Linked DNA regions of Homo sapiens. The protein of the gene in region 4 interacts with the protein of the main gene of each other region in a pairwise test. Each region holds a gene or a part of one and is shown on either strand. Other genes may lie near its edges. The genes, in order: MVP, USP54, ABHD11 and FNDC3B.

Region 1 (7,023 bases), on a different chromosome or scaffold from region 4:
GGCCTATAACGAAGCTTTTATATTGTATTTTTACCTTACCTTTTCTATGGCTAGATACACAAGTACTTGCCATTGTGTTCAGCTGCCTGCAGTATTCAGGACAGTCACATGCTGCACAGGTTGGCAGCCTAGGGGCAGGCTACGCCATCTAGACTAGGTGCCATCTAGGTTTGCATAAGTGCACTCTTTTGCACAAAGACAAAATCATCTAAGGACTATTTCTCAGAATGTATCCCCATCATTAAGTGGCGCATGACTGTATCAGAGTTTCAGAGTCTCAGGCAGCGGGTAGCCAGGAGGCCTTCCCAGAAGGGGAATTAACTTCAGGTCTGAGGGGTAAGTCAGAGGCTGCCAGGAATCAAATGGGCCAGTGTCTCAGGTGTGTAAGAACTAAGCATGCAAAGGCACAGAAGGTGTTCCTAGAACGTGCGTCTGGAGGAGAGAAGGCAGAGGGCCTCATGCCACTAGAGGACATACATCTCCCAGGGCAGTCCTCTGTGGGGGTGTAGGGACCTCACCTTGACCACGCGCTTCTGCCCCAGCTGATTCTTGCCATCCGGTCCGACAGGGTCGAGAATCACGCAGTAGTTGTGGGGGCCCAGGGTGGTGATGGGCACAACCCCCAGCACCTCCTCGTGGACATCTGGCACGTGGGCCTCTGTGTCCTGCACTGTTACCAGCCACTCCTCCCCAGTGCGGCGGGACACTCCCCTGAAGTCCCGGAAGTTCCGCCGAGCCCGGAGGTGCAGGGCTGTCTGCAGAGCAACATGTTGGGTATTTGAGTGACCTGCCTCCAACTTCAGGGGATCTGCGAGCCCCATTGGCCACCAAATGCTCCCAATGCTCCCAGATCTCAGAGACAATTTCTACCAATCCAGGGATTGTTTTTTTTTTTTTTTAAATCGGAGTCTCTCTCTTGTTGCCCAGGCTAGAGTGCAAAGGTGCGATCTCAGCTCACTGCAACTTCCGCCTCCTAGGTTCAAGCGATTCTCCTGCCTCAGCCTCCTGAGTACAGCTGGGATTACAGGTGGGTGACACCATGCCCAGCTAATTTTTGTATTTTTAGTAGAGATGGGGTTTCGCCATGTTGGCCAGGTTTGTCTTGAACTCCTGACCTCAGGTGATCCTCCCACCTCAGCCTCCCAAAATGCTAGGATTACAGGCATGAGCCACTGCACCCGACCGGCTTTGTTTTTTTTTTTTTTTTTTGAGACAGGGTTTCGCTCTGTTGCCCAGGCTGGAGCACAGTGGCATGATCATGGCTCACTGTAACCTCTGCCTCTGGGGTTCAAGCGATTCTCCTGCCTCAGCGCCTCTGGAGTAACTGGAATTACAGGCATGCTCCACTACACCCAGCTAATTTTTAAATTTTTTGTAGCGATGAGTTCTCACTGTGTTGCCCAGGCTGGTCTCAGACTCCTGGCCTCAAGTGATCCTCCTGCCTCAGCCTTCCAAATTGCTGAGATTACAGATGTGAGTCATTGCGCCCAGCCCCAGAAAGACTATTTAACCCTTCAGATGATCCAGAATACTCAGGCAATCTGATCTCTGAATTTTTTTAAGTGACCCTAAAATTATTGCTTCTCTTTTACTCTCATGCCATTCTACCACCATTCTCTGCCACTCGGAGGGTTCCCTAGCCCCAGGTCCCTTAAACCACAGCCCCCAGAGCACCAACCTTTTCCGTAAGGATGACGGCGTCCACCAAATCCAGAACCTCCTCAAACACCGCTGGGAGGTACGCCCCTACTGTGGTGACCAGCCATTCTTCCCCTGGGCCAAGAGTGGAGGGTAAGGGACAAGGGCCCCCCAGCCTGCTCCCCACCTACCCCTCCCCCACAGCTTAGACACAGGGGATTGACAGATTTCATAGGCAAAAAGATAGCACTGACCCCAGGCTCAAGTTCCTGACTGCGGTCCTCTTATTCATTCTTTTGAGGCCAAACCCCCACCCCAGTTGAATTTTAAAAGTTTTTTTTTTTTTTTTTTTTTTTTTGAGACGGAGTCTCCCTCTGTTGCCCAGGCTGTGATCTCAGCTCACTGCAACCTCAGCCTCCTGGATTCAAGTGATTCTCATGCCTCAGCCTCCTGAGTAGCTGGGATTACAGGCACGTGCCACCACGCCCGGCTAATATTTGTATTTTTTGTAGAGATGGTGTTTCACCATGTTGCCCAAGCTAGTCTGGAACTCCTGGCCTCAAGTGATCCGCCCACCTTGGCCTCCTAAGATGCCCAAGTTGCTGCTATGCCAACAGCCTGTTCTGCCTTCTCTAAGCTCCAAAGACCAACTTTTGTCCTTCTGCTAAAACAGGCAGCAGAACTGCCTCTGTTAGAGTTGTGGATGTCCTTTGGTTTACTGGAGAAGCCAGAGTGCCTGGATGCAGGTCCCAGCCTCGCCCTGCCTGGCCACACCCCAGGGCAAGCAACCTGCATTCTGCATCCCAGTTTTGATATATAGAAAGTGGGAATGGCCGGGTGCGGTGGTTCACGCCTGTAATCCCAGCACTTTGGGAGGCCGAACCTGGTGGATCACGAGGTCAGGAGATCAAGACCACCCTGGCTAACATGGTGAAACCCTGTCTCTACTAAAAAAAAAAAAAAAAAAAATACAAAAAAAAAAAAAATTAGCTGGGCATGGTGGTGGGCGCCTGTAGTCCCAGCTACTCAGGAGGCTGAGGCAGGAGAATGGTGTGAACCCAGGAGGCGGAGCTTGCAGTGAGCCGAGATCGCGCCACTGCACTCCAACCTGGGCAACAGCAAGAAAGCAAGACTCCGTCTCAAAAAAAAAAAAAAAGTGGGAATGGTAGCACCTCGGGGTAGTACCTCTGTGGCCCAGGATGGAGTGCAGTGGTGCAGTCACAGCTCACTGCAGCCTCCACATCCTGGGCTCAAGAAATTCTCCCCCTTCAGCCTTCTGAGTAGCTGGGACCACAGGTGTGTGTCCAAGGCCAGGCTAATTTTTAAATTCTCTGTAGAGATGGGGTCTCACTGTGTTGCTCAGGCTGGTCTTAAGCTCCTGGGCTCAGACGATTCACCCACCTTGGCAAAGTGCTGGGATGACAGGTGTGAGCCACTGTACCTATTGGCCTACATTTGTCAATTGTATTTGAACATCTTCTTTGTTGATCCAGAATCAGGTAAGTCATGGCCACTGCCCACAGCTCATGGTGAAGGTGAGGGAAGGAAAAGCCACATCCGCATGGTCATGGTCACATTTTCCAGCCCAAGTGGAAACAGCATGAAGCGGGGGTGGGGAAGGAAGAGCAGTGGGTGGCCCTCAACAGCTTTCAAAAGATACCAGGAAAGCGCCTCTCTGGGGCTACAGGAGGCTTTCCTCAACCTTCCCCTGCTTCCCCTGCAGTGGGGACCCCTCCTGCCCACCCACCATCATCGCCCCTTGGTGACCCCACCTGTCACCCTCTCCTTGCCGTCCCGGTCCCAGCACTCCTTGCGGGCCCTGAGCCGCAGAGCCTGGTTCTGCCTGATGATGGTGGCCTGAATGATCTCCACGACCTCCACTTCCTTCCGGGGGATGTACGTGCCTGGGGAGGGAAGGTGATGGTCAGAAGGTATCAGGGCTATGACAGGAAGGCAGGGAGCCCTATGGAGACAGAACTTACCAGGTCCCTCGAAAAGCCACTCATCTCCTGCCACCACCTTGTCTCCATCTTTATCCTCAAAATCAAGCAGCGCCTTTAGATGGAGGGCAGTGTTGGGCAGAACCACCTGCAGGGGTGTGATGTCCTAGTGGGGAAGAAGGTGGAGACACAGAACCATCAGTGCTGTGACCCCAGGGCCAAGCCTGATGCTCTGGAGGCGGGTCCACAACATCCATCTCTGTATGTCCTGAAATAAGACTGGGGTGGAGGCCGGGCACAGTGGCTCACACCTGTCATCCCAGAACTTTGGGAGACTGAGGTAGGAGGATTGCTTGACCTCAGACATTCAAGAACCAGCCTGGGCAACATAGCAAGATCCCATCTCTAAAAAAAAAAAAAAAAAAAAAAAGTGTAGCCAGGCATGGTGGCGGCGCACACCTGTAGTCCCAGCTACTCGGGAGGCTGAGGTGGGAGGATCACTTGAGCCCAGGAGGTTAAGGCTTCAGTGAGCTATGACTGCACCACTGCACTTCAGCCTGGGCAGCAGAGCAAGACCCTGTCTCAGGAGTTCAGATGAAGGAGAAGTTAGAGAAGGCCCTTTGAACTGAAACTGGGGCTCAAAGGAAGAGCTGGCTTTTTTTTATTTTTGGAGATGGGGTCTTCCTATGTCATCCAGGCTGGACTGCAGTGGTACAACCATGGCTCACAACAGTCTCAATCTCCCAGGCTCATGTGATCCTTCTGTCTCAGCCTCCTGAGTGGCTGGGATTACAGGTGTGTCACCACCCCCAGCTAATTTTTTTTTTTTTTTTTGAGACAGAGTCTTGCTCTGTCACCCAGGCTGGAGCGCAGTGGCGCAATCTCAGCTCACTGCAATCTCCGCCTCCCAGGTTCAAGTAATTCTCATGCCTCAGCCTCCCAAGTAGCTGGGATTACAGGCGCATGCCACCACGCCTGGCTAATTGTTGTATGTTTAGTAGAGATGGGTTTTCGCCATGTTGGCCAGCCTGGTCTCAAACTCCTGACCTCAAGTGATCTGCCTACCTTGGCCTCCCAAAGTGCTGGGATTACAGGCGTGAGCCACTGTGCCCGGCTGAACATATTTAAAATGAAAGCTTAGGCAGGGCTTGGTGGCTCACACCTGCAATCCCAGCATTTTGGGAGAATGAGGTGGAAGGATCGTTTGAGCCCAGGAGGTTGAGGCTGCAGTGAGCTATGATCACCCCACTGCACTCTCGTCTAGGCAACAGGGGGAGATCCAGAAAAAAAAAAAAAAAAAAAGGCCAGGCGCGGTGGCTCACGCCTGTAATCCCAGCACTTTGGGAGGCCAAGGCAGGTGGATCATGACGTCAGGAGATCGAGACCACCCTGGCTAACACGGTGAAACCCCATCTCTACTAAAAACACAAAAAGTTAGCCGGGTGTGGTGGTGGGCGCCTGTAGTCCCAGCTACTCGGGAGGCTGAGGCAGGAGAATTGCGTGAACCTGGGAGGCAGAGCTTCCAGTTAGCCGAGATTATGCCACTGTACTCCAGCCTGGGCAACAGAGTGAGACTCCATCTCAAAAAAAAAAAAAAAAAAAAAAAGGTACAAGAATCCCTATATACTTTTCACTTGGATTCCTTAAGGGTTATTGTCTTAATCATTCTTCATTTTCTCTCTACACACACACTTCTTCCCCCAAACTGTCTGCACCTAAGTGGACATGAATGTCTCTAAAAGTTCCCCATGTTCTGCTATTATGCTTTCAGGATCAAGCAGCACTGGTTAGTAAAGTCAGTAAGAAAACCATTAAATGGGGCTGGACACGGTGGCTCATGCCTGTAATCCCAGCACTTTGGGAGGCCGAGGCGGGCGGATCATGAGGTCAGGAGATCAAGACCATCCTGGCTAACACGGTGAAACCCCGTCTCTATTAAAAACAAACAAACAAACAAACAAAAAACCCAAAACCATTAAATGGCCAGAAGGTAAAGGTGGAAGAACAGGTAAAGGAATGAAGGTGGGACACCCACCTGCTCAGGCCCAGGCCTGAGGCCAACGGGGACAAGAGCCTGGCTGTAGGTTCAGGCCTGTGATGGCTTCTCCTAGAACAGGCACAGCCTGGGGCCTGGGCTTGTCACTGCTGCTTTGGCACTGCCCACCAGTGTCTGGCACCGGGTGAATGAACTGCTTAACCTTGGCACATGTCATTTAATGCCAGACTGGCTGGGCACTTCTGGTAGGCTCTGGAGCCTGGGAAGGTGAGATGGGCCAACAGTTCTCAGAAAAGAGGCAGGTGTGTTTGGGGCATGTGTGGAGGATGGGGGTGGCTGGAGGTGAGTGGAGGTACAGTGAGTCAATTCCACCCTTGGTGAGAGCCAGCAAGTGTCTCTCCCCACCCCTCCCACTGCCCTGGTTTGTTTTCCCTTTAGAACTCGGTACAGGCCGGGAACAGTGGCTCATGCCTGTAATCCCAGCACTTTGGGAGGCCGAGGCAGGTGGATCACCTGGGGTCGGGAGTTTGAGATCAGACTGGCCAACATGGTGAAACCCTGTCTCTACTAAAAATACAAAAATTAGCCGGGCGTGGTGGCGGGTGCCTGTAATCCCAGCTACTGAGGAAGCTGAGGCAGGAAAATCACTTGAACCCAGGTGGAGCTTCCAGTGAGCCGAGATTATGCCACTGCACTCCAGCCTGGGCGACAAGAGTGAAACTCTGCCTCAAAAAAGAAAAGAAAAAAAGAAGAAGAAGGCAGCAGTATAGAGCCCAAGGCAGGTGGAGGACAGGTAGGGTGGGGCATAGGGAGTGAGGAAACCAGGTACCTTTTCCAGCACCTCCCCTGGGTACAGGGGGAAGGGGTCCTGGGCCAGCCGGATCTCGAGGTCAGCGTGGCGAAGCCGAACTTGCCCTGTGACATCAAACAGCACCAAGCCCTGGGCATCCCGAGACACAGGGTTGGCCACTGTGCAGTAGTGACGTGGGGGGACGGTCACCATGCGCATGGGGGCAAACAGTACCCTGCAGGAAGATGAGAAGAGGTGTGAGGACCTGGGACCAGGTCTCCACTACCAAAGAGGACACCAAATGAGAGAGAAACCTCTCTATCGCCCAAGCGAGGGCCACTCCTGCTTGGGAAGAGGGAGGAGGATAAGGACCATCATGCCAGCCAAACAGGCCCCCACATCCCCAAGGATCCCCCACAGCCCAGCCCCCACACCCACCTCTCATTGTCCTGCCGGATGTAGGTCTTTGGCCCGACCTCCACACGGGACACGTTGCTGTTCTGGTCCAGCACATGGATATAGTGGTATGGGGGGATGCGGATGATGAACTCTTCAGTTGCCATGGTGACTCCTAAGCCCAGGGCTCACAAGAAGATGACTGGTAGGTGGGGGAGACGACACAGGATGAACCTGGGGAGCCTGGGGTGGGGCAGGCATGA
Region 2 (7,023 bases), on a different chromosome or scaffold from region 4:
ACATATCAATAAAGCATTTTTTTTTTTTTAGCATTTTTTGAAAAACTAATTTGGTGGCCGGGCGTGGTGGCTCACACCTGTAATCCCAGCACTTTGGGAAGCTGAGGCAGGTGGATTGCTTGAGCTCAGAGTTTGAGACCAGCCTGGGCAACATGGTGAAACCCCGTCTCTACAAAATATACAAAAATTAGTCAGGTGTGGTGGCACATGCCTGTAATCCCAGCTACTTGGGAGGCTGAAGCACGAGAATCGCTTGAACCTGGGAGACGGAGGTTGCAGTGAGCTGAGGTTGTGCCACTGCACTCCAGCCTGGGCAACAGAGCGAGACTCTGTCTCAAAAAATAAATAAATTTTAAAAAGTAATGTAATTTGGTGCTTAATAAATGTTTTACAATAAGATAAAGAACTCTCAAATTATATTTTTTCTTTTTTTTTTTTGAGACAGTTTCACTCTTGTCACCCAGGCTGGAGTGCAGTGGCGTGATCTCGGCTCACTGCAACCTCCATCTCCTGGGTTCAAGCAATTCTCCTGCCTCAGCCTCCCGAGTAGCTGGGATTACAGGCACGTGCCACAATACCCGGCTAATTTTTTTTGTATTTTTAGTAGAGATGGGGTTTCACCACGTTGGTCAGGCTGGTCTCGAACTCCTGACCTCAGGTGATCCACCCGACTCAGCCTCCCAAAGTGCTGGGATTACAGGCGTGAGCCACCGCACCTGGCCAAATTATATTTTTTCATATGTGAATCCTAATTGGCATTTTCCTTCATCTACTTCCCAATTAATTCTATCTGATCACTTCTTTATTCTATGTCATATCACTCCTCTTTTTTTTGAGACAGGGTCTTGTTCTGTTGCTCAGGCTGGAGCGCAGTAGCATGACCACAGCTCGCCGCAGCCTCAACCTCCCAGTCTCAGTTGATCCTCCTGCTTCAGCCTCCCAAGTAGCTGGACTACTGACCCGCACCACCACACCCAGCTAATTTTCTCAGTCTTTGTAGAGATGGGGATCTTACTGTGTTGCCCAGCTGGTCTTGAACTCCTGGGCTCAAGTGATCCTCACACCTTGGCTTCTCAAAGTGCTGGTATTACAGGTGTGAGCCACTGCACCCAGCCTGTCATGTCACTTCTTAAGGACTCAGTTTTTAAACCAAGGACTCTAACAAAAATAAAGACTAGTTTGATTTTACTTTTTTTTTTTAAGAGATAGGGTCTCACTGTGTTGCCCAGGCTGGAGGAGAGTGGCTGTTCACAGGCATGTGCTCATAGCACACTACAGCCTGAAGCTCCTGGCCTCAAGTGATTTTCCTGCCTCAGTCTCCCAAGTAGCTGGGGTTACAGGCATGAGTCATCATGCTCCGCTTGATTTGATAAATATATTGAGAATAGATTGACTACTAGATAGATTTTTAAAAATTTGTTTCTTTACACTACTAGACAAAAAAATTAATGGTCAGTAAGTACTCTTTCATACTGTTTTCAGAAGTATAGTCTTCTTCAAAGCTAACTGGCCAGTATGTATCAATATTTTTTTTAAGTTTATAACATTCAAATTAGTCAGGTATGGTAGTGCATGCCTGTAGTCCCAACTACTCAAGGGGCTGAGGTGGGAGGATCTCTTGAGCCAAGAAGGTCAAGGCTACAGTGAGCTGTGATCATGTCACTGCACTCCAGCCAAGACAACAACATGAGACCCTGTCTCAAAAATGAAAAAAAAAAAGTTTATAACATTCAACTAGTTATTAGTCTTCTAAAAGGTTATTCTAAGGAGCTCATGAGAAACGTGACCACTTAAGTGCAAAGATATTCAACACAGTACTATGTTATTAAAAATTACAAGTAAGCCAGGAGCGGTGGCTCACCTTATAGTCACTTCTCACTTTATAGTCCCAGCACTTTGGGAGGCTGACGCAGGCGGATTACTTGAGGCCAGGAGTTCGAGACCAGCCTGGCCAACATGGTGAAACCCCTTCTCTACTAAAAATACAAAAAATTAGCCAGGCTTGGTGGCACACGCCTATGGTTCCAGCTACTCGGGAGGCTGAGGCAGAAGAATTGCTTGAACCCGGGAGGCGGAGGTTGCAGTGAGCCAAGGTTGTGCAACTGTACTCCAGCCTGGATGACAGAGCGAGACTGCCTCAAAAAAAAAAAAAAAATTGTAAGTAACCTAAATATTCAACAATAGTAGGATGGTTGAAGAAATAAATTACAGTACATTCATATGAAACACTTTATAACCATTAAAGGTAGTTTTTACAGCAAATGCTCACAGATATAACATGAGAAAGTCATGATACTAAACTGTATACATATAGTGTAAAGGATACTGCTTTTTGCAAAAACAAAACTATATAGTACATGTGTATAAAAATGAAAACCAAAGGTAAGCTTATGAAAACATTAAGAGTGAGATTATCAGTGATTTTTGATACTTTATGTATTTTCAAACTACCTGCAATGAAAAATGTTGCTATTTTGGGTAATACAAATTTTTTTTTGTTTTTGGTTTTGAGATAGAGTCTTGGTCTGTCGCCCAGGTTAGAATGCAGTGGCACAATCTCAGTTCACTGCAACCTCCACCTCCTGGGTTCAAGCAATTCTCCTGCCATCAGCCCCCCAAATAGCTGGGATTACAGGTGCCCGCCACCATGCCCAGCTAATTTTTTGTATTTATAATAGAGACAGGGTCTCACCATGTTGGCCAGGCTGGTCTTGAACTCCTGACCTTGGGTGATCCACCTGCCTCGGCCTCCCAAAATGCTGGGATCACAGGTGTGGGCCACCGTGCCCAGCTAATTTTTTTGTGTGTATTTTTAGTAGAGACGGGGTTTCATCATGTTAGCCAGGATGGTCTCAATCTCCTGACCTCATGATCCGCCCACCTCCGCCTCCCAAGTGCTGGGATTACAGGCATGAGCCACCATGCCTGGCCTTATTATTCTTAAAATAATTACTTGTGGCCTGGCACGGTGGCTCACGTGTATAATCCCTGCACTTTGGGAGGCCAAGGCGAGTGGATCACTTGAGGTTAGGGCTTCGAGATGAGCCTGGCCAACATGGTGAACCCCATCTCTACTAAAAATATAAAAATTAGCTGGGCGTGGTGGCACACACCTGTAATCCCAGCTACTCGGGAGGCTGAGGCAGGAGAAGTGGCCTGAACCCAGGAGGCAGAGGTTGCAGTGAGCTGAGATCACGTCACTGCACTCCAGCCTGGGCAACAGAGCGAGACTCTGTCTCAAAAAAAAAAAAAAATTATTTGTGTATTCTTGCTTCCTTAGATAGAAAGCTCACTGAGGCAGACTCCAGCTTTCCCTTATTCTTTAGATTCTTCCCATATCAACCAGTCCTATCAAAGACCACCTTAGTAAATGTTATTGTAAAATCTACATTAGGATACGGATCCTCAGAAATGTATCTTAATATCAAGTCTTAGGACAGGCACGGTGGCTCACACCTTTAATCCCAGCACTTTGGGAGGCTGAGGCGGGGGGATCACCTGAGGTCAGGAGTTCAAGACCAGCCTGGCCAACGTGGTGAAACCCTGTCTCTACTAAAAATACAAGAGTTAGCCAGGTGTGGTGGTGGACGCCTGTAATCTCAGCTACTTGGGAGGCTGAGGCAGGAGAATCACTTGAACCCGGGAGGCGGAGGTTGCAGTGAGCTGAGATCACGCCATTGCACTCCAGCCTGGGCAACAGGAGTGCAACTCTTCTCAGAAAAAAAAAAAAATGAATAAAAAATCAAATCTTATATTTATGTGGTATTCCCCTCAAAGGCTCTGGAGAACACAGTAAGTACTCAATAAACACTTACTCAACTGTAATTATATGTTGGTTGTCAGCATGCAAGGAACCTGCACCATTACAGAAACTGTCACAGCCAAGCTAAGGAAAAGTTCTCCAAGTTCAATTTCACAGAATCATACATGCCATTTTAGAGTTAGAACATATCTTTTTTTAAAAAAAAAGCCAGTTCTCTCATTTTACAGGTAAAACCTTGGCCCTGGGATATTAAGTGACTTGTCCAAATTTATACTGAGAGTTAATGTTGGAATCAGGAAAATAGTTCAGGCTTTGGAGTTAAGTGCATCAATGTAAGTTACAAACATTCTTCATGTCTTCAATTTCCAGAACTGACTATGATGTGCACTTCAGGTGCAGGCTCTACTCTTCACTCTGTATTATCTCAGTCAGTGGCTACCCTGTAGGCATATAGTACATTAAAAATTCCTTGAACACCAAACTTGACTTTTCCTAAAGGGATCAGGAAGGTCTTGATATTGCTGGTTCAGTATGATCTGGAAATGTCCACACTGAGCATATGGACATCCTACTGCAAAGCAGACCTGGAGGCTGAATCTTGGGATTCTAAGCCATAGAAGAATATATTTTCCTCTCAGCCTCCCTCCATTTCATGCTGTCATGCTGAATCACTCTCAAACACCTATGAACCATTCTTTTTTTTTTTTTTTTTTTGAAACGGAGTCTCATTCTGTTACCCAGGTTGGAGTGCAGTGGTGCGATCTCAGCTCACTGTAACCTCTGCCTCCCGAATTCAAGTGATTTCCCTGCCTCAGCCTCCCGAGTAGCTGGGACTACAGGCAAGTACCACCACGCCCGGCTAATTTTCTGTATTTTTAGTAGAGAAGGGGTTTCACTATGTTGGCCAGGATGGTCTCGATCTCCTGACCTTGTGATCTGCCCGCCTCGACCTCCCAAAGTGCTGGGATTACAGGAGTGAGCCACCGTGCCCGGCCCTGAACCATTCTTTAGCACAGCATACTGGAGAAGCCATGGGCAAATACTTAGTAATCTCTTACTTTAGAAGGAGGGAAGTTGCCTATGAGTGGTAATTCTGCCCCTTCCTCCACTCTAGCCAGAAAAATGTCTAGGTCTTGTCCTGAAGGCTTTCTGAGTAAAGTCAAAAGTTCTATTACCTCCTACTAAGCTGGGGATAGTATCTGTATAGAACACTCCCTTCTGATCTTTCCCTGCTTTCAGCTTTTATATGATCCTCCCCCCTCCCCCCAACCCCTGGTTGCATTCTTACCTGTTTGGCTAAGTGGGTGCCAGGCGGTATCCTGCTGCCCCCATCCAGAACAGCCAGCTTGAGAAGCCTGAAGACTGGCCTGATACAGAGACTCCAATTCTGAGGTCTCCTGCTCTGTGTCTTGGTTCCAATGTGGATGCAAAAGGATGTGATTTCTCTCTGGATAGGTTACACACGTATGGGAATCATGAGGGGAGGACTTCATTCCTGGCCTAGGTGCCCCATGCTTAAGCTGAGAATCACAGAACCTTGTGATATTCACCCAGGAATCCAAAGGCAAGGAAGTCCCCAAGTCAGTACTGCTGCCCAGATCCTTAGACCTAACATCTCTCACTTGGGACAGCTTCTCTTGGTATATGTCTGGCTCTGCCAACCTGGGCTGTCCTCCGCTAGAAGTTTCACCATTAGGCAGCCCAGAGTTTAAGGCAAGAGAAGAATGTTCAGTGGACTCTTCCCAGGAAAGTGGTCTATCCCCACCCTCCAGAGAGGATTGTTGCTTTGCCCATGGCCAGTGGCCTTTCTCTTGACCCTGTGAGAAAGGAGGCTTAGAATCAGAAGGGGAAGAGTTCTTCCTTAGACTACCTGACAAACTTCTATCCTTGAAACCTGTACTATCCCTCATGGAGACACCCTGCATCCTCTGGAACTGCTCAGCCAGAGAACGGACAAGCCCCTTTGTGCTGGGAAACTCTGGCCTATAGGTCTCCTCACTGCCTCTGTCCACTTTTAAAGTCAATGAAGTTTTGAGGCTTTGGCCTTGGAGGCATTGGTTAGTTTTCTGCACAGGATCAGGACAGTGAAGCACAAATGAAGAAGCAACAGGCATTATGGGGTGGCAGGTTCTATACAGGGGAAGGCTGGGCTGAGCTGATGAATTTGAAGGACTACAGCCTAGGCTGTGTTCATCACCCCTCTCAGAGGTGGCTATTCCAGGCATCACCGGGGAGGGGTTAGCAGGATCCTTCTTTTCTTGGAACAGCTGTTCTTGAGCAATGCCTCTTCCTTCTTGTGGAGGGAGCTTGCTGCAACTGCTGTTGTCACACCTAGAGCCTTGCAGCTTACCCTCTGGGGCATCCAATGGCTCCCAACTATGATGAGAATTCTTCTCAGTCCACCCTGGTGCTTTAGGTAAACCTTGCCTGTGGAATGCAGAGGGTTCAATGTTGTCTACTTCAACCGAAGTCAGAAGCTTCAAGGCAGATCTACTGGGGGAGCTGTGCTGTGGGGCAGATGACTCTGGAGATAGTGATGAGTGTGACTCATGGCAGGAAGCAGGTGAATGGAAGAAAGAACTGGCCCCAAACTCTGTATCCATGCCGGATTCCAGTTGGGCCTCTTGGCTTAACAATACTTGGAGCGGGATAGGCTGTTCACTGAAACAAATGGAGAGAGCTAGTCATAAGCTGCCTTGACTGACAGGAACACTTACAGAAAGAACTCAACATTCCATTCCCATTTCTAGCTATTCACACAGGGAATGGTAAAAATAAACAGAAAGACAAGCACAAGTAGAGTCAGTAGTTCAGAGGATCACAAAAGAAAAGGCACATGGTCAGCTCACACTCAGGTAAATAGGTAACGTTAATCCTCTTTATTAAACACCCTCACCAAAGTTGCACAGTAACATTAAGTGGAGCCCTTGCCAATATTCTTCACTACCTGTGAAGTCGCATTCCAATCACATTCTACTTGCAAATTAGGAAACAAAATCAGCTAGTCTCACATGCAGATGACATGGAAGGTAAGCAAAGCCTGAAAATCACTCATACCAAACAGCAAAAATCCAGGATGCTATACAGGGAGGCAAGTCCTACCTGGGGTCCTGAGAGGCAGCCCGGCCAAAGGAACTATGAGGCCACATTTACAAAATACAGGGTGATTTGGGCTCATGGGAATACACAGAAATTAACCATTTCAAATATGTTTTTATAATCTGGATTTTGTTCTATTAGTCACTGAGATGTTTCCCCAA
Region 3 (7,739 bases), on a different chromosome or scaffold from region 4:
CTGGAGGTCCTGGAGGAGAAACTGAGGCTGAGGCGGGAGCTGGAGGCCTGGGAGGTAGGGGAATGCCATCAGGGCCTGGGAGGTGTGGGGAAAGAGGGCACAGGCTCAGCCTTGAACCTGCTCTCCTGTCCACAGGAGGACGTGCAGCAGCTGGTGTGGCAGCAGGTCCAGAATCAGCTGCAGAGAGAGGCCAAGGGTACTCGGGGAGCCCACGTGGACCCTGGAGCTGCCAGCACCCCCCGATCCAGATTCTCCCTGGGTCGGGGACGTTGGTGGTGACACAGACCTCAGCCCAGGACTTTGGGAGTAGTGTCTTTATTCATTAAAGCCTGAGGTCTGACCACCCCTGTAAAACCTCGTGCCCACACAGTGCCTGTCTGAGTCCTTCTGTGCCCAAATGTGGAGCAGGCTGCAGAGACTTGAAGCCTGGGGTTTTGTGCCTCCTTTTTGTTTTGTTTTTTTTGAGACAGAGTCTTGCTCTGTTGCCTAGGCTGGAGTGTAGTGGTGTGATCTCGGCTCATTGCAACCTCTGCCTCCAGGGTTCAAGTGATTCTCCTGCCTCAGCCTCCAGAGTAGCTGGGATTACAGGTGTGCACCACCACGCCAGGCTAATTTTTGTATTTTTAGTAGAGACAGGGTTTCACCATGTTGGCCAGGCTGGTCTCCAACTCCTGGCCTCAAGTCATCCTCCCGCCTTAGCCTCCCAAAGTGCTGGAATTACAGGCATGAGCCACCACGCCCGGCCATCTTCTTGCCAGCAACTCTTAGACCAGGAAGCCTCGGATGGCAGCTATGAAGTCCTGTGGGCGGTCAGCGTGGATCCAGTGGCCAGCGTTCGGCACCGTCTGCATCTGGGCCCGAGGGAAGAGCCGCATAATCTCAGGGTGGTGGCTGGGACTGTGCATCGCAGCGACGGCCATCAAAAACGGGTGAAAGTGGGATGAGGAGGAGTGAAAGAGACACGTGGAAGCAGAACGGGGAGAAATGGAGAGAGCTGTGTGAGCCCATATGCCCGGTGGTATTTCTGGCCTCTCAGCCACCCCCCTTCCACACCCAAGGCCTCCCCTGGTAGGGTCCCCAGGCTGGGGCCTGGGCGAGTAAAGCATGCCCCTCCTACTACCCAGGCTAGCTTACTGCACGAACTGGGAGTTTCCACCAAGGAGAAAGAGTGTTGGCCCGAGGTAGGACTCCTGCCTCTGTGGGAAAGCCAAGATCTTGTCTAGGTGCTGGGTCAGGGCATCCAAGTTCACCCTCCACACGAAGCGCCCGTCTACCTCTACCAGGTTAGTGAGCAGGTGCTGCCGCACGGCCATGTCCTGTGGGGGTGCAGCAGTTGGGGGAGGTTCCTTGTGCGGTCTGGGGGTGCCACTCTTCCCTTGACAGGTCCTGGTCTACAATACCATCCGGGGCACCTTGGGTGTATCACCTGGATGACAGAACTGAGCTGTTCATCCGCCAGTTTTCGGGCACGGGAGCGGGGCAGCTCATCTGCGATGTTGATGGCCCTCATGGCTGCCACATAGGTTGCAAAGTGGGAGACACCTGTGCTTTCCACTGGGCTGATATCTACAGCAATGAGACGTTCCACCAGCTCTGGCTGTGGGAGAGAACCGAACTGGGACCAGTCTTAGGCAGACATAGGGAGTCTCAGGCATGGCTCCTGGAGCCTGAACTTGGTCATCCAACGATCATGTGAGTCCCAGGTTGCCTGCAGGGCCCTCAGGGTATATACTGAATGGGAGGAGGCCCCAGACATGGGCGGCTCACCCTCTGTAGTGCCAGCAGCATGGCTGTCTTTCCTCCCATGCTGTGGCCAACGACGACGCAGGGCACCAGGCCCAGCTGGGGCAGAAGGTCCTGCAGGTCCTGGCTCATGATCTCGTAGCTCATGTCTGGGCTGTGGGGGCTGTCACCGTGGTTACGAGCATCCACCGTCAGCACCTGGGGAGTGGGGTGAGACGGGGCTGCGTTGATATCCCCATTCTGGGGGTAGACAGCCAAAGGCTTGTAGGGACAGCAGGTCAAAGGTGTGGAGAGCCTGGGGATACACCCTGTGGAGGGGAAGGGCCCAGTTTCCAGACCTAGGAGGCCCAGATGAAGAACCTGGGGCCACTCTGCCAGAGAAGAGCAGGCCCCAGGGTTGTGACCACGTCTCTGAAGGGCTGGCCTGGCTGGGTGGCAATCTCGGAGAATGCCAGGAAGGAGACTCCAGGAATTTCCAACAGTAGGAGCACAGAAGAATGGGCTGCCATAAGAGGTGGTGAGCTCCCGGTCATCCCTAGTGAACAAGCAGGCCCCTTCATGGAAAGGGTGCAGGCGCCTAGGCATGGGCCAGCCCCGATGGAGATCTACAACATGAATTAATGAAGATGGCAACGTGAGGGAATAAATGGGGTTGCCGTTCAGGGTCCATACTCAGAGTGAGGGATCTGGAAGTGAGCGTGAGAAGCGGGACCCCCCCTGCCCCGCCTCCTCTCAGGCCCCGCCCACTCCCGCCCAGCCCCAAAGGAGCCCCGCCCACTCGAAAGCTCACCCTACGGCCTGTCTGCTGGGCCAAGATCTTGGCGATGGAGTTGAAGTTAGTTTTGCTGCCGAAGAGCCCGTGCAAAAAGACGACGGCCGGGAGGGCTGCCTCCCCGTCCAGAAGCCTGTAGGAAAGCGGAAGCGGCCTGGCAGGGGAAGGATCGAGGTCAGAGTCTGAGCCGGCGGAGACGGGGAAAGGGGTAGGGGGAAAGAGCTTTGGGGGAGAGGCCTGGGAGGTGACAGGCCCAAAGGGAGGAGATGGGGCCGTCGGGGCCCGGCAGGAAAAGGAGGACAGAGGATGGCCTCCCGCCCGGTGCCCTTGACTGACCTCGGCTCGGCGCCCCCTCGGCCGCCGCTGCTGCTGCTGGGTGCGACAGGCACCCTCGCGAAGCTAGGGCCGTGGGGGCCGAGTCCCTCACGCGGGAGCCTCCAGGCTCGGGTCCAGCGGAGCATGCTTGCAAGCTGTTGGCCGGCTCGCATCTCACAAGGTACGTCCTCCCCGCGCTCCTTCTCCCGCCCTAGCTCGCAGCCCCGCCCATTTCCGTCTTCAGCCGCCCCGCCCAGTTCCGACTTGAGCCCCGCCCTCTCCCCGCCCCCATCGCGGGATTCTCCGCCCTTGGTCCCGTTTCCTTACGTATCCCCGAGAACAGTCCGGCCCCGCCTCCATCCCCGCCCCTTACGCCATTACGTAATCCCCGCAGGCTTTGCGCGGGTCGCCCTGAGCGCCGCACCTGGCCTCGCCCTAGGCTGGGCAACCCGCGGTGCTTGCCCCTCCCCTCGCGAAGCGCCGCGGTGCGTAGAATCTGGGAATTCGGTCTGCGCCGCTCTGTGCGTGCTCGGTTCTGGTTGCAGCTTAGGGCTCGGTTCCCGCCCCGCACCTGCCATCGCTCACTGACCTGGGTGGCTGCCATCGTTTCTGTGCCGCCGGCGGGGGCGAGCGGCGCCAGGGTGGCTCTGGGCGGCGGAGTGCCAGTGTGGTGGCGCCGTGCTCCACTGCCGGGGGCCCGGGCAGGTTGGGCGGAGCACGGACACCCACCCATCCTGGAGTCGTCGATCTAGAAGGAGCTCGGGGGCACTCTAGAGCTCTTCCCCAAGCCCCTTCGTCCCTTTTACGTTTGGGGAAGGCTCCCCCAGTCTGATCCCACCTGCTTTTCTGCCCATACTCCCCATTCTCATACTCCCCTATCAGGCACCCTGCCTTTCAAGGTCTTCTCCACACCCCACCTCCTGCTGGGGTGCTGTCTGTCTTCCAGATAGCCAGTTGCCCGAGTCCTATACTTTTTTTTGGTGGGGGTCTTACCCTCGCCCAGGCCGGAGTGCAGTGACGCGACCGTAGCTCACTGCAGCCTCGACCTCCTGGGCTCAAGCGATCCTCCCGCCTTTGCCTCCCGAGAATCTGGGACTACAGGCGCAGACTAATTTTAACATTTTTTTTTTTTTTTTTTTTTTTACTGAATCATGGTTACAATTTTTTTTTTTAGGCCGGGTGCGGTGGCTCACGCCTGTAATCCCGGCACTTTGGGAGGCTGAGGTGGGCAGATCACCTGAGGCCAGGAGTTGGAGACCACCCTGGCCAATATGGTGGAACCCCGTCTTTACTAAAAATACAAAAATTAGCTGGGCGTGGTGGCGGGTGCCTGTAATCCCAGCTACTCGGGAGGCTAAGGCAGGAGAGTCGCTTGAACTCAGGAGGCGGAGGTTGCAATGGGCGGAAATCATGCCACTGCACACCAGCCTACCGGACGGAGACAGACTCCGTTTAAAAAAAAAAAAAATTGCCGTGGGTGGTGGCACGGCCCTGTAATCCCAGCTACTGGGGAGGCTGAGGCAGGAGAATCGTGTGAACTTGGGAGATGGAGGTTGCAGTGAGCCGAGATCTTGCCACTGCATTCCAGCCTCAGTGACAGAGCGAGACTCCATCTCAAAAAAAAAATTTTTTTTTTAAAAAATAGAAGCGGGGGCTTGCTATGTTGCCCAGGCTGGTCTCGAACTCCTGGGCTCAAAGTGCTGAGATTACAGGCATGAGCCACCACACCTGGCCCAACAAAATTTTTTTTAGAGAAGGGGTCTTGCTACCTTGCCCAAGCTGGTCTCCAGCTCCTGGCCTCAAGCGACCTTCCTGTCTCAGGTATATGGCTTTTATTTTATTTTTTCTGAGACAGGGTTTCACTGCGTCACCCAGGCTGGACTGCAGTGGCACAATCACGGCTCACTGCAACCTCTTCCCCCTGGGCCCAGGCAATCTTCCTGCCTCACCCTCCCGAGTAGCTGGGACCACAGATGTGCACCACCATGTCTGGCTAATTTTTTTCTGTTTTGTAGAGATAGAGTCTTACTATGTTCTAGGCATAGCAAGGGGACAGTTTCAGGCTGGTCTGGAACTCCCAGACTCAACTGATCCTCCTGCCTCAGCCCCCTGAGTAGCTGGAATTACAGGTGTGCTCCACCATGCCTGGCCTCAGCTATAGGCCTTTTAAGGCATTGTATAACTGCTGCCTCCTCCTCAAGCCTTCGCAGACTTTCTGAGTTAAAACTAATCTCTTTCATGGAATGTTCTGGAAGCATTTCTCAGAGGCTACTGTGTAGTATTATAGAGGCAGCCCTCCCTGTGTGTCCACAGCGGGAGCTATGTCTTGTTCATCTGGTGCAAAGTGGTAATAGTCATCAAGAGCTTCAGGGCACTGGTAAATGCTTATGTGGAAGTCCTGCGGGTGGCTGGGTTAGTGGCCCTCCCGGATATGACACCTGGGCCAGCTAGTCTTACACTGACCCCTCCCCCACCTCCTTAGGGCGGTCCAGGACCTACAGGATGAGTCCTAACTTTTTTTTTAAAAAAATAATTAATTAATTAATTATTACTATTATATTTTGAGACGGAGTTTTGCTCTTGTTGCCCAGGCTGGAGTGCAATGGTGCGATCTTGGCTCACCGCAACCTCTACCTACTGGGTTCAAGCGACTCTCCTGCCTCAGCCTCCCGAGTAGCTGGGATTACAGGCATGCGCCACTACGCCGGCTAATTTTGTATTTTTAGTAGAGACGGGGTTTCTCCACGTTGGTCAGGCTGGTTCAAACTCCCGACCTCAGGTGATCTGCCCGCCTCGGCCTCCCAAAATGCTGGGATTACAGGTGTGAGCCACTGCGCCTGGCCATTAATTTTTTTTTTTTTTTGAGACAGGGTCTGGCTCTGTCATGGAGGCTGGAACCTGGCTCACTGCAACCTCTGCCTCCCGGGTTCAAGCAGTTCTCATGCCTCAGTCTCCCGAGTAGCTGGGACTACAGGCGCGCATCACCACACCTGGCTGATTTTTTTCTGTTTTTGGCAGAGACAGGATTTCACCATGCTGGCCAAGCTGAGGATGTGTCCTAACTCTGTAAAGCTCCATCTCCTGCTTAATGGGACCCTGAGGTGTTTGGTTCCAATCTGAGGAGGGCTGAGGTCACCGAGGACTCTAAGCACACCAGGTGGTGTGATCATGTTTCCCGCATAGTAATTAGGGGAGTGATGAGGACATCTGAGCCCTGTATGGGGGCTGGTCCCAGGCCTGGGAGGGGTCCTTGGAGAGTGTTTTTCTAGAGTTGGTGGGTGTTTTTCTAGAGTTGGTGGGTGTTTTTCTAGAGTTGGTGGGTGAAGGGCGTGGGGGTTGAAGATTCAGAACAATAGTATTTCAAAGGTGCTTTTTTTTGTTTGTTTGTTTTGAGAGAGTCTCTCTGTTGCCTATGCTGGAGTATAGTGGGACAATCTCAGCTCACTGCAACCTCTACCTCCCGGGTTCAAGCGATTCTCTTTTGCAGACTCCCAAGTAGCTGGGATTACATGTATGCGCCACCATGCCCGGCTAATTTTTGTATTTTTAGTAGAGACTGAGTTTCACCGTGTTGGGCAGGCTGATCTCAAACTCCTGACCTCAGGTGATCCTCCTGCCTCGACCTCCCAAAGTGCTGGGATTACAGGCATGAGCCACTGTGCCTGGCCTCAAAGGTGCTTTCAAATTGATCCCTGCCATACACCCCACCCTCCACCAGGTAATCTCAGCCTGGCCCAAGATCCCCACATCTAGGGGCAGAAGCAGCCTTGAGATATTTACTCAGAGTCCTGGGCCCCAGCCCTGATCAGGTGGCTGATGAAGGCAAGCAGAAAAACCAGTTGGTTTGATGTTTCCACTTGAACATTCCAGAGAAAGTGGTGGGGGCAGGGGAGGGGTCGTTGCTACCTGGGAATGGATCTGGGGGTGGTGTCATCCTGGGGGCTGCCCAGCCCTCTCAGCTTGTTAGGAACAGGCCAGGAAGCGTGCTGTTGGTTGGCGAAGGCCTCCTTCTAGGGGAGGCCAGAGGGGAGGACTTCCGGAGCCCCTGACATGTGGAGGTGAAGGTGGGAGGTGAAATGGACTATCGCTCTTTGGAGGTCGAGTGTACACTGCCCCATCCGTGTTCCCAGGCTTCCTGTGAAGTGGGAGGGTGCCGTCCTTATTCTGCTGATGAGGAAAGAGAGGCTTGGACGGCGAAGTAACCCAGCTCCAGGTCACTCAGCCAGTGCACAGCCCGGATTGTTTCCTTCACTGACTCCTAACGCAGTGCTCCGTGTATTTCATCACCACCCTTCAGGCCGTGGGGACCAAGGGCCGAAGGGGTGCGGCCTGAGGCGGCCGGGACACTGCGCCTAGGTGGCGCGGTGGCATTGAATGGGTTAAGGAGGGGAGGTGGCGGGTGTCCCTTAACTGCACCTGGCCCAGTATCGGTCACGTGGCCAGGGTTTCACCTGCCCCGCTGAGCAGGGACAATCAGGCTGCTTGTTTTGTGGCCGGTCGCCATGGTGACAGCAGCTTGCCAGGGGCGGTCATGGGGCAAATTCCTGCTGGCCAGCCGGGTGGGGCAGGAGTGTCAGCTGTGCTGGCACCAGTCGGGGCTTCCCGAAAGACCCCTGGAGCTTTCCCGTGGGGCTGTCCCTGGGGGGCCCCTATGTGACTCCGCTCGAAACCTCCTCCCATCTCAACCCCCACATCAGCCCAGCTTCTCTCCTCCCAGATTTTGAACCTGAGTTGATGTATTAAGCAGCCGGGATTTTCATATACGTTATTGTGTTTAATCCTCACACAGCAACCTTTCCCATGTGGGAATGGTAATCCCTGCAGGTCTGCTGCCGGCTGCGCCTCCCCTACTACTCACCCAACACTTTGAGAACACTGGCTCCTTCCTGCCTTGCTTCAACAAGCCCAG
Region 4 (7,023 bases):
ACTCTACTGCAACATTTTGTCATACCCACTTCTGTTTCATTACAATACCTCAATACCTCAACTCTCTTTCTGGAAAAATTTTAACATGACAAATTATTTTATAAGTATGTATTTCGAGATTTTGGTACTGATATAAATGTATCACAGGGGCAGAAAAATAGGATATCATGGAGCCCAATGTTTCTATCAACTAGGGCTTTGTATCACCATATCACAGAAGGACAAGAACATGGCTTTTAAGAGTTGAAGCTTAGTTCAAACCTTGATTCCATCATTTAACAACTGTGTGATCTTAGGTTAGTTAATTTCTCTGAGCTTGTTTCCTCAGCTGTAAAATGGGGACAGTAATGCCTAATTCATAGAATTACAGTAAAGATTAAATCGGTTAATATGTAAAATGCTGGCAGAGTATCAGGCCAACAGTAGGAGCTACACTTTCTTCCTTCCCACTGGGAAAATTATGAACAAAATAGTATTTTCTCTATTTTTTCAAACACCTTTTTATTGTGTACTACTTTTATACTTACAGAAAAGTTGCAAAAATAGTACAGAGAAATTTCTGTCTATCTCCTACTCTGCTTTTCCGAAGAGAAACATGTTACAGAACTATAGAATAATGATCAAAACCAGGAAATTATCACTGGTGGCCGGGCACGGTGGCTCACACCTGGAATCCCAGCACTTTGCGAGGCTGAGGCGGGTGGATCATCTGAGGTCGGGAGTTCGAGACCAGCCTGGCCAACCTGGTGAAACCCCATCTCTACTAAAAATACAAAAATTAGTCAGGCGTGGTGGCAGGCGCCTGTAATCCCGGCTACTCGGGAGGCTGAGACAGGAGAATCGCTTGAACCTGTGAAGCGGAGGTTGCAGTGAGCCAAGATCGCGCCACTGCACTCCAGCCTGGGTGACAGAGCGTGACTCCATCTCAAAAAAAAGAAAAAAAAGAAAAGAAAAACATTATCACTGATACTATACTATTAACATACAGACCTAATCAGAATCTTACCAATTCTTCCAATGTTCTTTTTCTACTGCAGGATCCTACTTTCTTTTTAACTAGCTTGGCTCTATGGAAAACATTTCTTGATTTACACCACTTTTTATTAACAGTTTTCAAATGAAATTTAATTCAAAATCAACTTTTTGTAAATAATAGTATGCCTATAATATACAACATGCCCTATGAATGGAATTACGTTGGTACTTAATTAAAACAGTCCTGAAAATACAAAAATTCAAAAATTCCTGAGCAAAACAAGAAATGTTCCACCACATTTCTATAAAACACAGTACAGGTATTATAATAAATTTTTATTTTTTTGAGACAGGCTCTCACTCTGTCGCCCACGCTGGCCTACAGTGGTGCAGTCACAGGTCACTACAGCCTTGACCTGGCTCAAGTGATCCTCCTGCCTCAGGCTCCTGAGCAGCTGGGACTACAGATGCCTGGCTAATTTTTGTATTTTTTTTTTTTGTAGAGGAGGGGTTTTGTTATGTTGTCCAGGCTAGTCTCTATCTCCTGGCTCAAGAGATCAGCCGGCCTCAGCCTCCTACAGTGCTGGGATTACAAGTGTGAGCCCCCATGCCCGGCCAATATTTAAATTCTTAAGTGCCATATATTCAAAAAATATTGGGGTTTAACTTGACTTTGTAATCATGTTGAATGAAAATAATTCATATTTGGTCCACAAATAACAATAAATTGGTATAGTTTGAACAGACCCCCTTCCTGGCAATAGTCCTTTAGTGTGGCAATGGTAATCTTAAAAGTAGTACTCCCTTCATAAGATCTGACTCATTTTATTATAAATAAGCACAGACCTTTGAAAATATATTTCTACTCCTGTTAATACAACGAGGCAAGATTATGCAGGTACTATTCTTATTAATGTATCTTTTATAATGCAGCTTTGGGAAGTCAATGCTAAGACAACATAGACTCTGAAAGAGAAGGAGATATAATAACATTTTAAAGAAACACCAAAACTCAAAAACCATAATGGAGTGAAGCTCTTTACTGGGGTGGCAGACAGCTCTTTATTTATATCCTGCCTTGGTAGAAAAACAAGAGTGTGGCACATAATTTAACCTTTCCCCAGTGACTCAGCATCACTATTATAAATATCAGACAATTTGCTGTGACACTGACTCATTGTCAAAAGGTTAATTATGTCCCAGGTGCTTCATTCGAGAAGCAAGAAAGGTGTATAACAAAAGAGTTTAATCAGAAATGTTTCAAATACAGCAGACTTCTGAATTTAACAGAAATGCTTCAGTTGATCTGAAAAATTAAGTTATGAAGCGAATATTTTCTCCAAAGAGACCAGAGACATTGGGTGTACTTATAATAACGAATTTGATCCATGACTTAAATCAGGTGGGAACTTGACTTTGGCATCTTTGCTTCTTTATCTATTCAAATCTAAATGTGTATGAAGACAGAGCTCTTCAAGGTCAACAACCACATCTGATTAATCTTTGTATCTCTCTTCCTGATCTTCCTTTGATCCTGGTACAAAGTACTATAATGCTCAAGAAATGTTACTGAACAAATGGAAAGAGGAGGACAAAGAACTCTATTTTCTCAAGAGACTAAGGCTTTACACAGAAAAAATAATAATATAGCCAAGAGAGTAAAATAAAAGTAAACCCATGGTTATTGTCACTCTGAGGGGTTAGGCTATGAACCAATTTTTCTTGATGTTATTCTATCTGGACTCCCAAGTGGAAGCTTATAGATAACCAGCCTTGATAACCGTCACTGGGAGGTGGGAGGTGGGGTCCTGTAATCTAATGCAGACTAGTCCAGATTATTTTTGGCTCCATTTAACAGCTCGTAAAATAATTTTCTGTCTTTTACCAGTTCTAAGAGTCTTTCCCACTGAAATGTACATCTCAGGGGAATGAGACAGAAGGCTCCTTCCCTAAGGAGCTGTGTCATCTTTCCCTTGGACTTGGGTCATTTATTCAGCAAACTGATGAACAGACAAGATACAAGGGTGGTGAGAAGCAGAATGGAGAAGAATCTTATTTTGTTCTTAAGTTTCAGAATTTCCTAGAGAAGTGGAAATTAACTGCAAAACACCAAAACAACCAAATATATTTTTATTTAAATGGACTCTTTTTTTCCATATCATCCCTCCTGACAGCCTCCACCACAAGCCTTTGAGTGGGTTTCCCAAAGTGCCTTTCATGGGACAGCAGTCCTTGTGAGTAACATCTGAATAATGTCAACCTACCTGTAGTCTACAGCAATACTGTGCAGCAGGCAACAGGTCTCTTATTTCAAAACGGGTGTCTGTCCCATGATAAATGAGTTCTAAGGATTCTTCATCTTCTCCCCATTCCAACCTGTACTCTGAGATGTCAGCACCAGAACTATCAGGACTCTGGAAAGGCAGAAATGGAAGTAGTTAATAATGCCACTGAGAAGAGAATCCTACTGTGCTTGTATTCAATTAACTAAAATGGGAAAGAGAGCAACATGCCCCAGAATATTTCAAATACATATAAAAGAAAGGCACGATCACAAATATATATACCTACTATGTACCCACAAAATTTTTTTTGAGATTTAGAAATTTAAAAATAAAATAGGGCCAGGTGCGGCGGCTCATGCCTGTAATCCCAGCACTTTGGGAGGCTGAGGTGGGTGGATTGCCTAAGATAAGGAGTTCGAGACCAGCCTGGCCAACACAGTGAAACCCTATCTCTACTAAAAGTACAAAAACTAGCCAGGCATGGTGGTGGGCACCTGTAATCCCAGCTACTCAGGAGGCTGAGGCAGGAGAATCACTTGAACCAGGGAGGCAGAGGTTGCAGTGAGCCGAGATTGTGCCACTGCCCTCCAGCCTGGGTGACAAGATTGAAACTCTGTCACACAAAAAAATAAAATAAGTAAAATAAAATAAAATTTTTTACAAAAAGAAAGGCATGAGAAACCATTTCCTCTCAGTTTTGACTACAGTAAAACTTCCACAACCCTAAATAATATAAGCAAGTGGCAAGTGCCAAGGGTGATTACTATAGTACACAGAGCAAAAAAAAAAAAAAAATCATCTATATGTGCATTTTGGATTTGCAGCTTCCTTATAATTGGTATTTGTATTTGGGAGTAAAGTAGAAGAAACAGAAGTTGATGCAGAATATGCCTGACTTACCTCCCAACCCACTAAGACACATCCATCAGGTGTACAAGAAATACAAGGTGCTTTGCATTGTCCAGGAGGCCCTGCAGCAGTGGTAATTTCTGAGACATCAGAATAGGGACCATACTGAAAGAAAACACACGCACACACACGTATGTATATATGCGTGTATGTGTTTGTGAATGTGTGTGCATACAAAAGCTTATAACCAAATAAAAGCTAGGCTAACATCATCATCAACACAACTAATTAACAAATATTACCCAATGATTTTCACTTTCAATTCAATGTGTGTAAGTTTTTCTCCTATATACAGTCCCTGAGTAGTAGATGTCTGTCATTTTTTTAATTGTAAAATAATTAGTTGGTTGACAAAATATTTTCCCTTTCTTGGGACATGAAATAAAAATATGCTGATTTTTGACAAAACAGGGCAATCTGCTTTCATATTTCTCAGAGGACATCCAAGAAAACTAAGTCAGATGCCCACTGCAGTTTAATTTTTAATGAATAAAAATATACTTGGAATTGTTGGTGATCAAATTCTAGGTATTTCTTCTAGTTACCGGTATTTTCCATTTTGAAAATAAATGCTTCTGTAATGTTTTCTCAGTGTGTTCCCATCACCTCACCTATTCAAGGGTATCCACGGCAATCCTGATGTTACCATCAGTGACCACACTGCTCAGAGCCAGGAATTGCTAGAGACTTACCACACTTTGAGAGAGTCACAGCCACCTGAACCACCCATTTTAATGGTGGCATATTTGATACTTCAAAGGTTTGGAGCAGAGTAAAAACTTGCCAGGCTAACAAAATATATGACTGTCCTTGTCAAAATGAGAGAAAAAAGACGGCGGGGAGGGGGGAAACAAAAAACCACCTCTCAACATAACATGCAAAGATGCTGGGGAGTTGGGGAAGCTCTCTGAAATGGACCTCAGAAGGTGACTACAGCGATATATATGGTTAATTTCTAATACAACAGGAATAAACCCAAGCTGAAGATAGTTTCTTTATAGGATAAATCAGTGAAAGGGCTGAGAAAAGTACAGCTCACACCAGCCCAGTTGCACATTTATCTTTGTTGTGGCAGATAGTAACTGAAAAGTTGATGAGAGAATGGGGTAGACACAACAGTGTGCTCATCACTATCCATCTTCTTTTCGCTTACATGATTATAAGTTCAGGTACATAGGCGTTAATGTTCAGACTTTTTTGTTTTCACTTAAGTATCATTGTTGTGTCTGAAATTCTTTTCTATTGGAGAATTAGGAGAAATCCAGTTTTGGGCACTCTGCCTAAGGAATAGCCCTTCTTTTATTCCTTTACTTTCTTAATAAACTTGCTTTCACTTAAAACAAAAAGTCACTGCAAGTTGGGCTGTCTTATTTTTTTAAAAAATCATCAATTAATTAATTCTATTTATTTGCATGGAGCCCATCTACACAAACCACTGGCACTTTGGACGGGGCATTTAGCTGGCTTTACCCACACGCTTCTGCCCTTTTATGCTTCATCAATCTCTGAGCCCACCCAAAAGCCTCACAGTTACTGGGACTCCCACTGCTCATTATTCATCTCCCCCTAAATCCACATCATTTGGCAATTTCAAAGAAAAAAAGGACAACAACCTTTATGGATATAACATAGACATATATATTCTCAATTTTTGATAGCTCAACTTGACAACTCCAAATGGAGCAATAGAAGGAGAGAGTCCTGTAGTTTTCACGTGAAACAAAACAAAAACAAGCTGGTGTCCCTGGCCACTACCCTTCTCTAGTTGTAAAAACTGACCTAAGATGTTGCTGGTTCATTTAGACAAGACAGTATAAAACTTTTATTAGAACTATTATCTAATCCTAATTTCCCTGAACTGATAAAGTCAATAGAATAGGAAATTTTCCAAAAACTGTCGAAAATATCTACAGGGTGATATCCTTATTAACCTTGAGTGCTGTCTTCATAGAATGATATGAGGACAAAAGAAACAGAAAACTTCTAATGCTGGGTCTATATGAAATCACAACAATATCAACTCAGAATTAAGATTTACAGACACTGCATTAATGGTTGTCAAGGTTGCATCAAGACTGTCAAAAATTTCAGGAGGCTAGAGACAGAAGTGCTAGCACTTTGGGTTCTGATTATGCATTCTGATTCTGGTTATGGTGTATGGGCTTATACTCACCCCTCCATCATTCAGAGCCCTCACCCGGAAGCGATACACGGTTCCAGGAAGCAGGTTGCCGACGGTGCACTCCAGCTCTGGGCCATGGTACACTTCCGAGGCTACGTCTTCGGGCTCCGTCATCTCCACGCTGTACTCTGAGACCTCACAGCCACTTTCCGATGCAGGAACATCTGGGAATGAAGAATTTTTTTCATCTTAGAACACTTTGTGCTTCCAGTTGACCAAAGTGCACCAGATTTCACACAAGTTGAGCAAAATATCACATAGGTGGCCGGCCTCAGTATCTCCCTTACAAAAGAATCCATGCCCACCAAAAAAGAGATATAAAAATAAAAGTTTCTGAATGATGTTATCCATACTCTCCAAAGCGGGTCCACTGAAGTTTATTTAATTACATTGATAAAATAATCCCAAAATTATAGGAACATTAGATATATTTCTTCATATTCTAATGCTAGGTAAATGGAAGAAAAAGAGGGAAGAAAAATCTCTTTAATTGGAAACCAAAGGTCATGCTAAATCAAAATACAGGACCCCAAATTGGCACAATTTATTATACTTTAGACATAAGTGGTAGGAAAAAATAGTCTGCTAGAGAGTTCTGTACATTTGTACTTGTAATTATACATGTTGTAAACTGCTGGACACAACAGGAAACGCTAATACAGCTTAAATCAA

Evidence for each region.
Region 1: the proteins of FNDC3B (region 4) and MVP interact in binary tests that used the Homo sapiens proteins (3 or more experiments, as listed by UniProt).
Region 2: the proteins of FNDC3B (region 4) and USP54 interact in binary tests that used the Homo sapiens proteins (3 or more experiments, as listed by UniProt).
Region 3: the proteins of FNDC3B (region 4) and ABHD11 interact in binary tests that used the Homo sapiens proteins (3 or more experiments, as listed by UniProt).

Annotation. Positions count from the first base shown.
Region 1 is NC_000016.10:29,830,454-29,837,476, reverse strand, and holds part of MVP (major vault protein), read right to left. Parts: intron 7,004-7,023; exon of another isoform or gene 6,963-7,003; 5' UTR 6,928-6,962; coding exon 6,803-6,927; intron 6,600-6,802; coding exon 6,404-6,599; intron 3,745-6,403; coding exon 3,621-3,744; intron 3,543-3,620; coding exon 3,411-3,542; intron 1,774-3,410; coding exon 1,679-1,773; intron 756-1,678; coding exon 519-755; intron 1-518. UniProt on the Homo sapiens protein: Required for normal vault structure. Vaults are multi-subunit structures that may act as scaffolds for proteins involved in signal transduction. Vaults may also play a role in nucleo-cytoplasmic transport.
Region 2 is NC_000010.11:73,511,324-73,518,346, forward strand, and holds part of USP54 (ubiquitin carboxyl-terminal hydrolase 54), read right to left. Parts: intron 6,425-7,023; coding exon 5,052-6,424; intron 1-5,051.
Region 3 is NC_000007.14:73,735,795-73,743,533, forward strand, and holds ABHD11 (sn-1-specific diacylglycerol lipase ABHD11), read right to left. Parts: upstream 3,009-7,739; 5' UTR 3,004-3,008; coding exon of another isoform or gene 2,977-3,003; coding exon 2,852-2,976; intron 2,670-2,851; coding exon 2,534-2,669; intron 2,349-2,533; coding exon of another isoform or gene 1,942-2,348; coding exon 1,768-1,941; intron 1,598-1,767; coding exon 1,427-1,597; exon of another isoform or gene 1,317-1,426; coding exon 1,135-1,316; intron 898-1,134; coding exon 765-897; 3' UTR 300-764; downstream 1-299. UniProt on the Homo sapiens protein: Catalyzes the hydrolysis of diacylglycerol in vitro and may function as a key regulator in lipid metabolism, namely by regulating the intracellular levels of diacylglycerol. 1,2-diacyl-sn-glycerols are the preferred substrate over 1,3-diacyl-sn-glycerols.
Region 4 is NC_000003.12:172,343,578-172,350,600, reverse strand, and holds part of FNDC3B (fibronectin type III domain-containing protein 3B), read right to left. Parts: intron 6,516-7,023; coding exon 6,343-6,515; intron 4,275-6,342; coding exon 4,161-4,274; intron 3,390-4,160; coding exon 3,240-3,389; intron 1-3,239. UniProt on the Homo sapiens protein: May be a positive regulator of adipogenesis.